2 separate regions of the Homo sapiens genome follow, and region 2 is linked to region 1. The links come from fine-mapping of genetic effects on gene expression. Tissue or cell type: whole blood. Region 1 holds a variant in brackets; the other region holds the start of a gene. All regions are shown on one strand. Distances are from middle to middle.

Region 1 (8,072 bases):
AATTTCTGGCCTGTTCAGGAGCCTCAGATAAGTATTTGTACTTGAGACCACCTCACACAATCTGTATGGGCCCAACCCTGATCTCAAACCTCCTTCCCTCTGCCCAAAGCTGTCCTTCCTATGGCAGGAGGGGTGGGGGTCCCAGGACGTGCCTCATACATGACTTGAGCTTGTCAGTCCACTGAGTTTCCTTCTACGAGATCAACGCGAGGGGCCTGTATCTTGAATTAAAACCTACTCGCTTCCTTTCTGCACTCTGTGTGCTCGATACAGAAGGCAGGTGTGCTGGCCTTCAGAGCCAGGTGCCCTGCTCCCCTCGTGTAAGGAAGCGCATAAGGTTGTGAAGGTCACTGACCCGAGAGCGCTGCGTGCTGACCCCACACTTCACTGGGGAGCCCTCTTGGGTAGCGCGAGACGCCTACCCGCCCAGGGCCAGGTCAGTCTCCCAGGCTCCGTGTCTTCACGGTTACCAGGGCACGCCACTCAATCTGGATGTGAGCCGGGGTGGATGAGGTTCTGAAGGGCACACCAGCACTGGGAGCGGGGGCAGTGGGGGTCTTATTCTCCAGACGCTTCCTCTATCTAGTTGTAACAAACGTCAAAGAATGTCAGGTCTTGTTTCTGCAGAGCAGACTTTGGCCTGACGGGGTCCACAGACCTGTTTCACTTGCAACACCCAGTAAATGTGTTACTGGGTGCCCTACTTTAAAAATCAGAGATTTCAAATGATTGACTTTTCCGGCTGAGTGCGGTGGCTCACGCCTGTAATCCCAGCACTTTGGGAGGCCAAGGCAGATGGATCACCTGACATCAGGAGTTCGAGACCAGCCTAGCCAACATTGCAAAACCCCATCTCTACTAAAGATACAAAAATTAGCTGGGCATGGTGGCGGGCACCTGTAATCCCAGCTACTTGGTTGGCTGAGGCAGGAGAATTACTTGAACCCAGGAGGCGGAGGTTGCAGTGAGCGAAGATCACGCCATTGCACTCCAGCCTGGGCAACAAGAACGAAACTCCATCTCAAAAAAAAAAAAAAATTATTGACTTTTCTTTAAAATCTGATTTGGCAGTGCTAGGTAGGTCCAGGAGTGCTAACACCTTCCCAGAGGTGGTACGCAGGTAGTCAGGTGCTCTCTGACTCACCCCCATCTGGCCAGATCACGGCCCCCAGCAACACGTGGGGTTGTGTCCCTCGCTGGGATACACGGAGTGCCCTTATAGGCAGGGAGTCTTATAGGCAGGGGTCTCTCCCAGGCACCTCTGGGTGTCCCTACGGCCCCTCCCAGGTGGGAGCTGAGGCTAGGTTGCAAAAAGGAGGTTGGGAGCAAGTAGGGGCTTCACAGTAACACCCAAGAAAGCACACGCACCCCAGGGTCCCACCCCAGTGCTCCCAGACACTCCCACAGATGTGGTTCTGGTCAGGCGCAGTGCAGCTGCTGCGGCTCCACCAGCCCCGGGCTTTCAGGCAGGTGGGCCTGGGAGTAGTTGAGCTTTGTCCCAGAACAGTGGGGGATGGGGCCATCATTAAAACCACAGCTCTGGCCCCAATATCCCACCGCCACCCCCACCCCGATATCCCAGCCCATGCCTCAGCAAAGCCCCCTGTGAATTCCAGCATTTTTATTGAGCGCACCACATCGGGGAGGGGCGGCAGTGGTTTCCACGGTAACCAAAGTAAGGCTTGTGCACTTGCTGAGCTTCCAGATGCGAATTAGTAAAAGCTAAATTCAAAAGTAGAATGGGCATCTCCAAAGAGTACGATAAAAACATTTTGTATCAAACTTGTGATTAAAAAAATACAAAAGTTAAACCCACAGGCAAAGAGGAAAATGACAATCCTGAGAGCTGCCCTGATAGGTGAGCCTCGAACCTCGTCTAAATCCGTAAGAAGGCAAACCCTGGGGAGGCCAGCACCCCTCGGGAGAGTGGGAGTGAACGCGGAGCCCACCTGGCTTCATCTGGGCAAAGCTTCGTAGCGCCTCTGGCAGGATGTGTGTCCAGTCCCCCGAGGGGCAGAGGCACTGCGGTGTGGACACACGAGGGCTGGGGGGCAGGGGCGGAGCCGAACCCTGCAGCCAGGCAAAAGCGGGAAAGGCCTGGTTCCTCCAGCATTTCCCAGCTTTTGGGGGCTCCCAAGAGATAGTGGTTCCCACTTGCCCAGCCACTGCTGTGGCCAAGCAGCAGGGTCGGACCTGAGCCTGTGGTCACAGCAGACTGGCTACTACTCAGCTCCAGGCCCTTATTTCCAATCCTCGGTGTCCAGGAGAGAAAGCCGGTCCCAGAGGCCCCAGGCCAGGGATGGGAGAAGGGAAGGAAGGCCAGGCCAGGCCTCTGGGACCAGCTATAGCCCTTCTGAGCTGGGGCCCAGCGGTCAGCAGAAGCCAGATGGGGACAGAGTGTGGAAGTGGCGTTACTGTACAGAGAGGCGGCAGGCAGGAGTCGCAGATGGTGGTGGCTGCTAGGACAGCATGGACTGCTGCACGGCCTTCTGCAGCGACTGCCGCGTCACCAGCAGACGCACCACCTCCTCCGAGCGCTTGGTGAGCCGCTTGCGGGCCTGGTCGTGTGTGACCATGGTCATGTCCCAGCCGTTCACCTGGCCCCAGGAGAGAACACAGGCTCACCTCAGCTCCCCGCCCTCTGGGATCTGGAAGCAGAGGGCTTTGGGGGCCCAGGTCATTCAAGTAGGCCCCCAGCCTAACATCCCAGGGCTGGGAGACACCAAGCACTGTGGCTGAGACACACAGGAGAGAAAGCCAGCGTCCTCTGGGGCAATGCCAGTATGGGTTCCCAATTGGCTGCAGTGAGTCTCTCCCAGCTGGGAGGCTGGGGCAGCTCCCCACCCCCAAGTGCTTCAGACCTGCTTGCCCAAACCTTGTTTCTCCTCCTTTGGGACACCTGTTACCTGCATGATCTTGTCTCCAATCTGCAGCCCAGCGATTTCAGCAGGGCCTCCTTCAGACACCCGTGTGACATAAATACCCTGGAAAGGGGCAGCCCAAGTCAAGCCCTGTGGTCACTGGACTGGCCCCTTATCACACAGCGGAAGCCAGCATGGCACATTCTCAGCCGTCCCTCTGTCCCTGCACCCAGCCTCTCCCAGCACATATGGTCAGTGAGGACTGTTCTGAGAGAGCCGGGGCAGAGTTGCTGCACCACCATGCACCGGCCCTGCTGATGGCCGCCTCCTGCTCCTCCTGGGCTCTGTCTGAGCAGCCCTTCCTCACCCCACCCGTCCTTATTCTCACTAGGTCACTTCCGATGCCTTCTTAGAGAGCATGGTTTGAGAGATGAAGTCTGTTCCTTCCATGCAGGCCCAGGAAGCAGAGACCCACCATCTCAGGCCCCTGTGCCCCATGGAGCGGTCCCAGGACCCCAGACCCCCTCACCTTGTCCGTCTTGTCTTCAGAGAAGGGATTCTGGGAAGGATCCTGGTCGATTCCACCTCCAATGCTGAAACCCAGGATTAAGTTCTCACCTTGACGCAGCTTGTGAATTTCAACTCTTTGCTGGCAAAGAAAAAAGCCAGTTGAGAGAAGTGGGTGGTTGGAGAATTAGGCTGGTGGGTGTTCCCAGCAGCAGCCTCAGAGCCATGACAAGGGGCTGGGTCCCAGGCCCCTGCAGGAATCCAGCTGCTCACCAGCCTGGGAGGCTGAGGAGCTGGCACTCAGAACTTGGCCACATTGATCCACCCACACAGCCCTGTGTCCTCAACCTGTCCCCACTTCCCCTGTTAGTCTTAGGCACTAGTCTTGGTCAACATGTGGTGGAAGCCCCTGCTGGCCCAAGAGTCCAGGTGCTGTGGCTTCTGTAGGTGGGAAGCCCGTCTCACAGGAGGTGCTCTGGAAAAGCAGAGATCAAACTTGCATAGAAAGGAGAGGAAGGGGTTTCCTTTCGGCCGGAACCGCCATCTTCCAGTAATTCGCCAAAATGACGAACACAAAGGGAAAGAGGAGAGGCACCGGATATATGTTCTCTAGGCCTTTTAGAAAACATGGAGATGTTCCTTTGGCCACATATATGCGAATCTATAAGAAAGGTGATACTGTAGACATCAAGGGAATGGGTACTGTTCAAAAAGGAATGCCCCACAAGGGTTACCATGGCAAAACTGGAAGAGTCTACAATGTTCCCCAGCATGCTGTTGGCATTGTTGTAAACAAACAAGTTAAGGGCAAGATTCTTGCCAAGAGAATTAATGTGCGTATTGAGCACATAAAGCACTCTAAGAGCCGAGATAGCTTCCTGGAACGCGTGAAGGAAAATGATCAGAAAAAGAAAGAAGCCAAAGAGAAAGGTACCTGGGTTCAACTAAAGCACCAGCCTGCTCCACCCAGGGAAGCACACTTTGTGAGAACCAACGGGAAGGCGCCTGAGCTGCTGGAACCTATTCCCTATGAATTCATGGCATAATAGGTGTTAAA[C/CAA]AAAAAAAAATAAAGGATCTCTGGGCTCCAAAAAAAAAAAAAAAAAAAAAAAGAAAGGAGAGGAAGGGCTTGCCGGCCACGGGGACCAGCGCACAGGGTGCCGTGGATACGTGTTCGTGAGACTGGAGTGTCCAGTGCAGGACACAGAACTGGGAGGCGAGATGAGGCTGAAAGTGTAAGGCTGGGGCCAGATCCCGTCCTGGAAGGGGAGCAGGGGTGTCTCCCTAAGCCCCAGACCCTGCTCTTGTGCAGAAACGAGTGTTCTGGGGCATTCCCACCATGCTCTGGGGTGTTCCCACCATGCTCTGGGGCTATGGTCCCCAACTGTGCCAGGTTCTTTTCAAAGCCCTTGGCAAGCGCCGTCCAGTCAGCAGATGCTGGGAGCCAGACCAGATCACTCCCAAAGTCAAGTTTTAACAGGAAGGAGAAAAGAAAAAAGCAGAAGACCACAATCTAGACTAGACCTAAAGAAGTTTCCCAAAGGGAGGATTATTTGCACCAGGCTTTGAGGGGGTGATGGGTAGCCTGACCTTGATCCTGAACCCACTGGAGTTCTCAGGAACGGAGTAGGGTAGGGCATGGTCAGGTTTGCTGCTAGAATGACCACTCAGGTAATCAGTAGAGGAACGGACATCTCACAAAAGCAAGGTGCAGAGGCCGGGGGACATGGAGCTACCTGAAAATGGAGATCTACAGACTTAGGGACCACTCATGGAGGAGAGGAGTCAAGAGGAGCACCCAGCCACCGTGCCTGGCTGAACACACATTATTCAGATGGGGACCCAGGAGGAGGAGGAGCAGGTTAGGTTGGAGTGCCAGGAGCTGCGGGGCAGGTGTCCAGAAGGCAGATGGATCTATGGAGCCAGGGTTCAGAAGAATGGCCTAAATGTCTTTAATATTCTCAGGATTCTACATGGGAGAGGGTGGGGACTGGGGAGTGAGCCTGCCCAAACCCATCCCCAATCCAAGACTCGAGGGAGAGGCCAGACCATACACACCATGTCCAGGCACGTTCCTGGTGTTACCAGAATTAGGGGGCATGGGCCTGCAGTTTTGGGGAAGGCCCTGGGACCAGTTATGGCGTGAGGGAGGGGGGCAGGAAGCATGAGGCCTACTGTGCCTGGGTCCTCATGCCCCAAACTGAGCTCCTCCAGGCCTGCTCTGCCGGCACGGTCAGAAGATTACAGGCCCTTGGGTTGGGAGACAGGGCTGTCACTGATTTGCTGGGTGAGGTCACGCAGAAGGTGGCTTGCTGTAGCTCCTCACCTGTCCCTGCCCCCCTTCTACCTAAAGAGCAAACCTGGTGCCTTCTCTCTGGGGCAGGTAGGGATCTAAAAAAGCCAGGCTGGGCCGGGTGTGGTGCCTCACGCCTGTAATCCCAGCACTTTGGGAGGCTGAGGCAGGTGGATCACCAGAGGTCAGGAGTTCAAGACAAGCCTGGCCAACATGGTGAAACCCCGTTCTACTAAAAATACAAAAATTAGCTGGGCATGCTGGTGCATGCCTGTAATCCCAGCTACTCGGGAGGCTGAGGCAGGAGAATCGCTTGAACCCAGGAGGCGGAGGTTGCAATGAACCGAGATCGCGCCACTGTACTCCAGCCTGGGCGACAGAGCAAGACTGTCTCAAAAAAAAAAAAAAAAAAAAAGTCAAGCTGGTGCAGGGAGGGTGAAGCTTAGGACAGCTGTCAGCTGGTCCAGCAATGTTTCCTCCTGGCCCAGGCCTGAGCCAGTGCTCTAAGCTCAGCCTCACTTGTCGCCTTTATCAGTGGCTTCTCTGCCTCCACCCACCTGATTGCTGGAGCTTCTCCAGCACACCCAACTGAGATAACACACCCAGTCCCTATGGCTCCAGGGCGGGGACTTTCGCTTGACCTACTGCCCACCGGGCAGGCATTTCTTCTCATTCTCTGAACGCTGTCGGGAGGTAGGCAGGAGACCTGAGTCTTTCCTGAGGTGGTCTTTTCTGGCTGAGCACTTCTCTCTGGGACTCCCCACCTCTGTCATAGGGTTGTGTCCCTCTGTGACACCGGCGTCTGAGTCTAACGTCCCAGCCTTCCTTCCTCCCTCTGCCTAGTCTAATAGCACCCAGCACCTAAAACAAGCCAGAGGGCGGCCAGGGGCCTAGGCTAGCCCCCGGAGGGTCTACTCAGGACTCAAGTGCCAGGAGGGAGGCCTGGACTTTTTTGCCTTAAGGGCTGGAGACCCAGGAAAAGTTCGAAGAGGAAACGCTCATCGCAGCTATACGAGCGTCCACCCTGGACCAGGCGGCGAGTGGGTTGGAGGAGCAAGGCTGGACAGGAAGGGGGCAGGGGCTGCCACGGCAGGCTCGGGAGAGCCCCACCCCCAGATCTCCCTCCGGGCGGCGGCGCAGGCTGCAGCGGAGGAAGCATTTCCTCATTCCAGAGGCTGCGACTCATGGACGTCGGGATCGGCGCCCGCCCCCAGCAGCTCCCCGTCTGGGGACACGGAGGCCCGGGAAGGGGGCGCTTTTCCAGGCTCCTGCAGCCAGGCCTTTCCCCGTGGCCCTCCCCGCCCTGCGCACGCAGTCTGGGCTCTGTCCAGGGTCTCGGGAGGCTCTCGGGTCCCGGCCATCCCTGTTTCGTGGCTGGGGGAACTGCGGCCCGCTCCGGCAAAGCGGGGACCCGAGCCCTTGCCGCCGGTTCGCAGGAGCCCCGGGTTCGATGCTCTGTCAACCTGCTTGGGGTGTCCGTTTCCCGCTCTGCGAGGTGGGGTCAGGCCAAGACGAGGAGGAGCCCGCGCAAGCGCACTCACCACCACGGCGGTGACCGGCTGGCCCGGGATGTAGGACATCTCGACCCTGCTCTGGTCGCCCAGCGCCGCTCCGAGAAGCCGGCAGCAGAGTACCCGCGGTCGCGCCCTCGCTGCTTAACAAAGGCCGCCCCGCTCGGCCCGCCCCCTCATGAATAGTTAACAAACCTCCAGCCAATCACTGGCCGGAGCGCCACTCCGCTTTCGGAAGTCCCTGCGCGTGCGCAGAAAAGCGGGCAGAGGGCGGAGCGTGTCCGGGGCGCCCACGGCGCAGGCGCGGAGGGCGGGGCGGGATCTGGGCGCGTGCGCAGCCCGAGACCTCCCGGCAGTCTTCCGAGCAAGATGGCGCCGCGGGCATTTCTTCCACTGCCCGTCTGAGGGAACGCTAAGTAGTGTGTCCGGCGCCGTGTTCCAGGTAACTGGGCCACCGTGGCCGGGGAACGCAGACGCGCCACCACCTCCCGGCCGGCCCGGACCCTCAATCTCCTCGGCGTCTTTGGAAGATCCGAGGCCCAGGACTGGTGCCAGGTCTCGGAAGCTCCAGGGGGAGGGGGCGGCGTGAACCCAACTCACCGAGCTCCGGGCGCCACTTGTAACTTGGTTTTCTCCGCAGCTCCGCGTTGTTCCGCGAGAAAGCGAGAGGCCGAGCCCGGGCTGGTGCGATGGCCGCGGTGGTGGCCAAGCGGGAAGGGCCGCCGTTCATCAGCGAGGCGGCCGTGCGGGGCAACGCCGCCGTCCTGGATTATTGCCGGACCTCGGTGTCAGCGCTGTCGGGGGCCACGGCCGGCATCCTCGGCCTCACCGGCCTCTACGGCTTCATCTTCTACCTGCTCGCCTCCGTCCTGCTCTCCCTGCTCCTCATTCTCAAGGCGGGAA
Region 2 (8,064 bases), 31 kb after region 1:
ATCAGCCACTCTGCTGGCTTCGGGGAGCTTCCCCAGGCCTTGGGGTGGGGTAGCAGTCACAGCAACTCCTAGTTGAGGTGGAGCAGGCTCAGGGCTCCACCTGTCCCACCAGCTCCTGGGCAGGGGCCACAGCTCCCACTGCTGACTGAAACCCAGTCCTGCAAGCAGCAGAGGCGACAAGCAACCCTAGAGATGGGGGCCCTGAAGAGGCAAAGACCAGCCGGGCGCAGTGGCTCACGCCTATAATCCGAGGCAGGCAGATCGCAAGGTCAGGAGATTGAGACCATCCTGGCTAACACAGTGAAACCCTGTCTCTACTCAAAAAAAAAAAAAAAAATACAAAAAATTAGCCAGGCGTGGTGGTGGGCGCCTGTAGTCCCAGCTACTCAGGAGGCTGAGGCAGGAGAATGGCGTGAACCCGGGAGGCAGAGCTTGCAGTAAGCAGAGATCGCACCACTGCACTCCAGCCTGGGCGACAGAGTGAGATTCTGTCTCAAAAAATAAATAAATAAATAAATAAAAGAGGCAAAGACCACTGTCCACTCAGAGGCCCCAAGTGGACAAGCCTGGGCTGAAGCCACATACTGGTTTGGTGACCCCAGGCAAGCCAATTTCCCATACATAACATGGGGTGACAGCGCCTCCCTCTGGGGTTGTGATGGTGCCTAACCTGAAACCAATCACGAGGAGACCTCAAACAAACCCAAACTGAGGGGCATTCTACAAAATAAGAGTACAGGCCAGGCACGGTGGCTCGCGCCTGTACTCCTAGCACTTTGGGAGACCAAGGCAGGAGGATCGCTTGAGCCCAGGAGTTTGAGACCAGCCGGGGCAACACAGTGAGACCCCATCTCTATGAAAAACAAAAAAGTAATCTAGGCATGGTGGCACCAGCCTGTCGTCCCAGCTACTCGGGAGGCTGAGGTGGGAGGATCCCTCGAGCCTGGGAGGTCGAGGCTGCAGTGAGCCATGATTGTGCCCAGGTGACAGGGTGAGACCCAGCCTCAAAAACAACAACAAAAAAATGAAATAAGAGTACAAATCCCATACTTGTTGACACTAAAAACGCAAGCAATAAAAGAAAAAATAGGTAAGTTGGACTTCATAAAAATTTAAAATGTTCATGCATCAAAAGACACTCTCAAGAAAGTGAAAAGACAACCCACAGAATGGGAGAAAACATTTGAAATAATGTAGCTGGTAAGGGTTTAGTATCCAGAAGATACAAAAAACTCTTATAATTTAACAATAAAAAGCCAAATAATCCAATTTAAAAATGAGCAAAGGATTTGAATAGACATTTCTCAAAAAAAAAAAAAAAAAAGAGAGAGAGAGATACACAAATGCCCAATTAAGCATATGAAAAGATGACAAACACCATTGGTCATTAGGGAAATACAAATCAAAACCACAATAAAACACCACTTCACTTCCACTAGGATGGCTATCATTTTTTAAAAACCCTACAGATAACAGGTGTTGATGAGGTTGTGAAGAAATTAGAACCCCCGTATATCACTGATAGGGATGTAAAATGAGGTAGTTATGGTAGAAAACAGTTTAGCAGTTCCTCAAAAGGTTAAGGATCGAGTTACCAGATAAGCCAGAAAATTCCCAAGAGATTGAGAACATGGCCAGGCACAGTGGCTCCCGCCTGTCATCCCAGCACTTTGGGAGGCCAAGGCAGGTGGATCACCTGAGGTCAGGAGTTCGAGGCCAGCCTGACCAACATGGTGAAACTCCGTGTCTACTAAAAAAATACAAAAATTAGCCAGGCATGGTGGCCCATGCCTGTAATCCCAGTTAATCCAGAGGCTGAGGCAGGAGAATCTCTTGAACCCAGGAGGCAGAGGTTGTAGTGAGCTGAGATCATGCCATTGCACTCCAGCCTGGGCAACAAGAGCGAAACTCCATCTCAAAAATAATAATAATAATAATTAAAAATTGAAAAATTGAAAACATGTTCACAAAAAACTTGTACATGAATGTTCTCAGAAGCATTCTTCTTCTTTTTTTTTTTTTGAGACAGTCTTGCTCTGCTGCCCAGGCTGCTGGAGTGCACTGGTGCGAGTAGCTGAGATTACATGCGCTCGCCACCACACCCAGCCAATTTTTGAATTTTTAGTAGAGACGGGGTTTTACCACGTTGGTCAGGCTAGCCTTGAACTCCTGACCTCAAGTGATCCAGCCACCGCGGTCTCCTCTCCCAAAGTGCTGGGGTTACAGGCATGAGCCACTACACTCAGCGGTGTGAAAACCACCCAAATGTCCATCAGCTGATGAATGCATGACCACAATGTGGCAGCCCCACACGGCAGGATAGTATCAGCCACAGAGAGGAATGGAGGGCTGATAGATGCCACAACATGGGTGAACCTTGAAAACATGACACCAAGTGAAAGAAGCCAGAAAAAAAAAAAAAAAGGCCGCATACTATACAATTTCATTTATACGAAATACCCAGAATAGGCAAATCCATAGAGACAGATTCTCCTGCCTCAGCCTCCCGATTAGCTGGGATTACAGGCGCCACTATCATGCCCAGCTAATTGTTGTGTATTTTTAGTAGAAACAGGGTTTCTCCATGTTGGCCAGGCTGGTCTCGAACTCCTGACCTCAGGTGATCCACCCACCTCGGCTTCCCAAAGGGCTGGGATTATAGGCATGAGCCACAGCGCCCGGCCGCCAATTTCCTAATTTTCATACTTGTACTTAGTTAAATATGTCCTGCTTTCCCTGCCATGTGAGGACACAGCGAGAGGGTGGCCATCTGCAAGCCAAGGAGAGAGCCCCCCCTGAGACCCCGAACCATGCTACCACCCTCGTCTCAGATTTCCACATCCAGGACTGCGAGAATTAAATTTCTATTGTTCAAGCAAAAGCAACTCCATTTATTCATTCATGCGTTCATTTCACATCTATTCCCTAAGCAGTTAAGTGCTGCTGGGGCCCCACCCTCAGGGCATTCCCGGACTGACAGCGACATCAGGCAAATGATCCCCCAAATAAGCCCAATAATTACACTGTGGGAAGGCCAGGGAGGAAGGGAGAGGGAGTTACTGGAAAGCCCAGATCTGGGGGCTGAGTGGATGCTAAGGGAGTGGAGGAGGACGGGCAGGCCTGGCTGAGCAACAGCACAGCGCCTACGAGGCCGCTCAGGTGGGAGGCGGCCAGGGGCCTGGGGATGCAGCTCAGAGAACGCGGACTGCTGGACCTCCGAGGGAGAGCCAGGCGTCAGGGCTGCCCTCCCAGGAGGAAGCAGGAGGAACTCCACCGCATTTACTGAACGAGTGGAATGAGGCGCATCCCCATTGTCCAGCGCTGCTTCTCCCCTCCACCTGCTCACCCCCGACCCACCCCGGGGTCAGGGCTCTGAAGGCGCCTGGCAGAGCAGCCTCCACAAGTTGCCTCTTTGGCTTTGTGGCGCCAGCTCCTGCCAGGTGGCATGAGGATGGGGGAAGGGGATGGCCGAGCTGGGTGCAGAGATAGAGGCCTCTGGGCAGGACCCCCAGCTGGACACCAGAGAGGCTGGCCGCGGGTGGGGCAAGTTGACCGGAAGGGAGCTCAGGAACATGCCGGGCTGATGAGTTTCTCCAGCTCTGAGTAGGCAGTGACACCCTGTGATTATAAATAACCTGCCGGCGCCTGGGTCAGCTGCCAGGCCAAGGCCCAGGGAGGCTCCTGGGGCGACAGCTGCCACCCAGCCCCCTGGCATCCCTGCCCCCTTCCCATGGCCCTAACACGTGGGGACCCGACTCTGGGAGAAGCAGCTGCAGGGAAAGCCTGATAAATCGAGGAAACCAGAAGGCCCCTGCCCACCTCTCATCACCTCTAGCGCCAGTGGGGGAGTGGAGAGCCCCCTCTCTACACCCTACTCCTACACCCAAGGACCCAAAGAGGACCCCCACAGCAAGCAGGCTCACAGACCCCCAGCTACCGGGAAAACCGCGTGCACGCCTGCGAATTCCAGGACCCTGGAGAAGGACGCGGCGGCTGGCACCCGCCCTGCCCCTCCCCCGCCTTCCCAAAAGTCCGCGGAGAACTTACACGACCAGGTACGCCAGGATGGAGGCCTGCAGCAGCCGGTACAGCAGGCCCACCTTCTTGTTCTTGGCGATGACATACTTCTCGGTCTTGTAGTCGAACAGCGACAGGCAGAGCCCCTTGCAGCCCGCCTGCCCCATGGCGCGCTCTCAGCCGGGCTTGCGGACCGCCCGGCCCACGTGCGCTCATGGGGAGCACTCGGTCCCTCGGTCCCTGCGCGCCCGGCGCCCGCCTCGGCCCGTCTGCGCCCGCTCAGCTGCAGCCCGGGGTGTCCGGCAGGGCTGCGGGGCGCGGGGGCGGGTCGGGGCGGCCTTTTATTGACGCGGTTGAGAAAGCCTCGGCTGGGAGCTGGGCGGCGGCGAGCACCGGAACCTCAGACCGCGACCTTGCCGCTACCTCTTCTTCCTCCTCCTCCTCCTCCTCCCCTGACACAGTGACACCCCTGCAACCTACTCCCCAGCCACCGGTCTGGGAGCGCAGCCCCCCGGATGCGCAGGACCGCCCTGTGCTGTTGCCCAGCTGAAAGCAGCGATCGCGGAGGAGAGGAAGTGAAAGGGGGAAGGGCTCCTTTTTATTTTATTTTAAATTTATTTATTCATTTATTTTTGAGACGGAGCCTCGCTCTGTCGCCGAGGCTGGAGTGCAGTGGTGCGATCTCAGCTCACTGCTACCTCCGCCTCCCGGGTTCAAGCGATTCTCCTGCCTCAGCCTCCCAAGTAGCTGGGACTACAGGCGTGATAATTTTTGTATTTTTAGTAGAGACGGGGTTTCACCATGTTGGCCAGGCTGGTCTTGAACTCCTGACCTCAGGTGATCCGCCCACCTCGGCCTCCCAAAGTGCTGGGATTACAGGCGTGAGCCACCGCGCACGGCCGGGAAGAGCTCCGTTTAAAGCAAAACTCCCCTTTCTCTCGCAAAGAAATCCCAAAGGGTTCTTCCTATTGAATAGATGGGGAACTGAGGCCAGGGGAGGAAGGAAGGGGACACAACAGGTTTCTCCATTCACCTCGCGCCAGGTCTCCTGCCAGGGAGATACATTCTTGCTCCGTGGGCAGGGGGTGGTTGTGGGGGGGAAGCCGTGGCTCCCCCACAGGCTGGAAGAGACAAGACTTGTCCCACCTGAGGCTGCCTGTGTCTGCTGCGACTAATGCGCGTTTCTACTGCAGCAGCTGCTGCAGGTTTAAAAGCCCACACTCCGGCGGAGTCGGTGGTCAGGCAGGTCCCGAGTGCCGGCAGCATGAAGACCTCCCTCCCACACTCAGGGCGGATGGTGCGGGGGTGGGGGGCAGACGGGGTGGGGGCGGGGAGACACAGGCAACCCACCCTAGGATCCTAAAAATATGCCTGGAGAGTGCGCATGTACCAACTGTTTGGAATGGTTCCCAACGCACAAGAAATAGAACTGATCCATGCAGCTATGACTGCAACCCTCTCAGTATGTGGAATTCAACAGGAGTGGGAGTGGGATGAGGGAGGGCCTCCGGGGGGGCAGGTTTAGAACTCCTGACAGCCAAAGACGCAGGGCCCTGGGTGAGCGCGGTGTGGTGAGGAGCTGCGCACGCTTATTTTCTGCATCCTGCAGTCTGACCACAAGCAGTCCTGCTCCTCTCCCTACCCCTGGCTTTCACACACAAAGAGGCTCCCTTCCCTAAGCCACAGACTCGGGGAACTGGAAGGTACCCTGAAATTCATCAGTGTGATTCTAAAGTAAAAGCCCCAAGGAAGGTGTCCAGTTTCAAAGTGCATGGGAATCATGTGGAAGAAAAAAAGGCAAATTCCTAGGCCCTGCCCCTCAAATTTTCATTCACGAAATCTAAGATGGGGCTGGGAACCTGTATTTTGCTCTCAAACTGTCATTTGGGAAAGCGTGGATCTTTGCATCTTTTCATCCATTTCAACTCAACTGCCATTTCTTCAAAAAGGCCTGTTATTATTGCCCACCCAAAGTAGCCCCCAGTCCCAGCCCAGCCACTTTCTATCCCATTATCTCATCTTATTCCCTTAGAGCACCTGTCACTATCCAGTAGGATCTCGTTGACTTAGTGACTGTGTCCCATGCTAAGACCAGAAGCTCCCGGAGAGCAGGGACCATGCCTTTGGACATCTCTGTATGTCCCTGTGCCTGCCACATAATAGTTCTAGACATATTATTGAATGAGTGGACAAACCTGGCCCTGATTTTTTTTTTTTTCAACAGGGAGGGCATTTCGATTCCACCCTGCCCCAGTCATGACTGCGAATTTTAGGGGCTGAAGTCATCTTGGCTCTCCTGCCAGCCTCCTCCTCAGCCCCCTGCTAACACAGCACTCCAATGCTCACTAAAGCAGCCGCCACCGAGTGACATCACCCCTAAGAAGATGCCCGTCACCCTGACAGTGCTGCTCCAGGGTAAGGTATAGAGGGGAGGTGGACTTTCAGAGTCTCACAGGAGTCGCCTGAATTGCATCTGCCCTGGAGAAGAGCTTGCCCATCAACCCCAGCACAGGACAACATGAGTGTCACAGAGATGGTGCCACATTGAGTCTCTCCACTCCCCAAGGGAGTTCCAGGTTTTGTTCCAGGGCCTGTTTGTTCTTTGAAGGGGTCTTTAGAGACCAGGACCTTCATTTTTCTGGGGTGATTAGGGAAGGGGTGAGTAAGTGAGGCCCCAGAGCAGAGCCTACCACTAGCCCCAGTCCCAGGCACTCTGCTGTTCTTGATTCATCAAACCTTTGTGTGCTACTGGAGAGGCTGAACTGCCAGGCACTTGCCCTCCATGTCCTGTCTTAACTGCCACTGTGGCTTTAGAGAAGGGCTCTGCTCTGACTTCCCCTCCAGTACAGGCAGCCCCTCCTGAACTCCCCACGGCACAGCCAAGACCAGGCTGCAACTTCTGACGGAACTGTCCTGAAGCTTTAGAGACCACATGAGGGGCATCTAGAGGGGACAGGGCTCTCGGGGACAGGACCAGGCCCATCCTTACGGGGTCCCTTACTGCACAGCTTCAGAGACTAGATCCAGACCCACTGGTGAGGCATGACATCAAATTACTGGGCGACAACCAGCATTAAAAAAAATAGGTTGGGCACAGGCGCTCATGCCTGTAATCCCAGCACTTTGGGAGGCTGAAGCAGCAGAACCGCTTGAGCCCAGGAGTTCAAGACCAGCCTGGGCAACATAGCAAAACTTTGTCTATATATATAGACAGACACACACACACACACACACACACACACACACACACACACACCTATATATATAACTAGCCAAGTCAGGCACAGTGGCTCATGCCTTTAATCCTAGCACCTTGGGAGGCCAAGGCAGGAGGATTGCTTGAGCCCAGGAGTTCAAGACCAGCCTGGGCAACATAGGGAGACCCCTTCTATACAAAAAATAAAAAATTAGCTGGATGTGGTCGTGCACACTTGTGGTCCCAGCTGCTTGGGAGGCTGAGGCAGGAGGATCACCTGAGCCCAGGTGGGTTGAGGCTGCAGTGAGCCATTATTGCACCACTGCACTCCAGCCTGTATGATAGAGACCCTGCTTCTTAAAAAAAATTGACCAGGTGGGATGGTGCACACCTGTAGTCCTAGCTGCTCAGGAGGCTGAGGTAGGAGGATCTCTTGAGCCTGGGAGTTCAACACTGTAGTGAGCAATTATCGCAAATAAATAGAAAATATTGCCGGATGCAGTGGCTCACACCTGTCATCCCAGCAGTTTGGGAGGCCGAGGCAGGTAGATCACGAGGTCAAAAGTTTGAGACCAGCCTAACCAACATGGTGAAACCCCCTCTCTATGAAAAATACAAAAATTAGCCAGGCCTGGTGGCACACGCCTATAGTCCCAGCTACTCAGGAGGCTGAGACAGGAGAATCGCTTGAACCCAGGAGGTGGAGCTTGCAGTGAGCCAAGATCGCGCCACTGCACTCCAGCCTGGGTGACAGAGTGATACTCCATCTAAGAAAGAAAGAAAGAGAGAAAGAGAGAGAGAGAGAGAAAGAAAAAGAAAAAAGAAAGAAAGAAAGAAAGAAAGGAAGGAAG

What was found. PIP is the estimated chance that this variant, and not a neighbour inherited with it, causes the effect.
Region 2: P2RX5 starts here. The variant in region 1 is fine-mapped to the expression of P2RX5 in whole blood (INTERVAL, PIP above 0.99).

Annotation. Positions count from the first base shown.
Region 1 is chr17:3,661,289-3,669,360 of GRCh38, forward strand. CTNS (cystinosin, lysosomal cystine transporter) reads left to right here. Exons shown (of 12, transcript NM_004937.3): 12 at 1-1,815. TAX1BP3 (Tax1 binding protein 3) reads right to left here and starts at 7,290. Exons shown (of 4, transcript NM_014604.4): 1 at 7,200-7,290; 2 at 3,391-3,510; 3 at 2,907-2,984; 4 at 1,607-2,597. The coding sequence starts at 7,238. The coding sequence ends at 2,460. EMC6 (ER membrane protein complex subunit 6) reads left to right here and starts at 7,524. Exons shown (of 2, transcript NM_031298.4): 1 at 7,524-7,611; 2 at 7,810-8,072. The coding sequence starts at 7,859. P2RX5-TAX1BP3 (P2RX5-TAX1BP3 readthrough (NMD candidate)) reads right to left here. Exons shown (of 15, transcript NR_037928.1): 12 at 7,770-8,072; 13 at 3,391-3,510; 14 at 2,907-2,984; 15 at 1,605-2,597. It also overlaps the pseudogene RPL21P125. RefSeq lists enhancers at 6,084-6,615, 6,616-7,146, 7,679-8,072 and a silencer at 7,238-7,577. The variant C/CAA (reference allele first, on the strand shown) is at 4,426.
Region 2 is chr17:3,691,822-3,699,885 of GRCh38, forward strand. It overlaps P2RX5 (purinergic receptor P2X 5), which reads right to left and starts at 4,334. Exons shown (of 12, transcript NM_002561.4): 1 at 4,048-4,334. The coding sequence starts at 4,184. It overlaps P2RX5-TAX1BP3 (P2RX5-TAX1BP3 readthrough (NMD candidate)), which reads right to left and starts at 4,583. Exons shown (of 15, transcript NR_037928.1): 1 at 4,048-4,583. RefSeq lists enhancers at 1,935-1,984, 2,385-2,434, 3,405-3,921, 4,034-4,083 and a silencer at 4,204-4,563.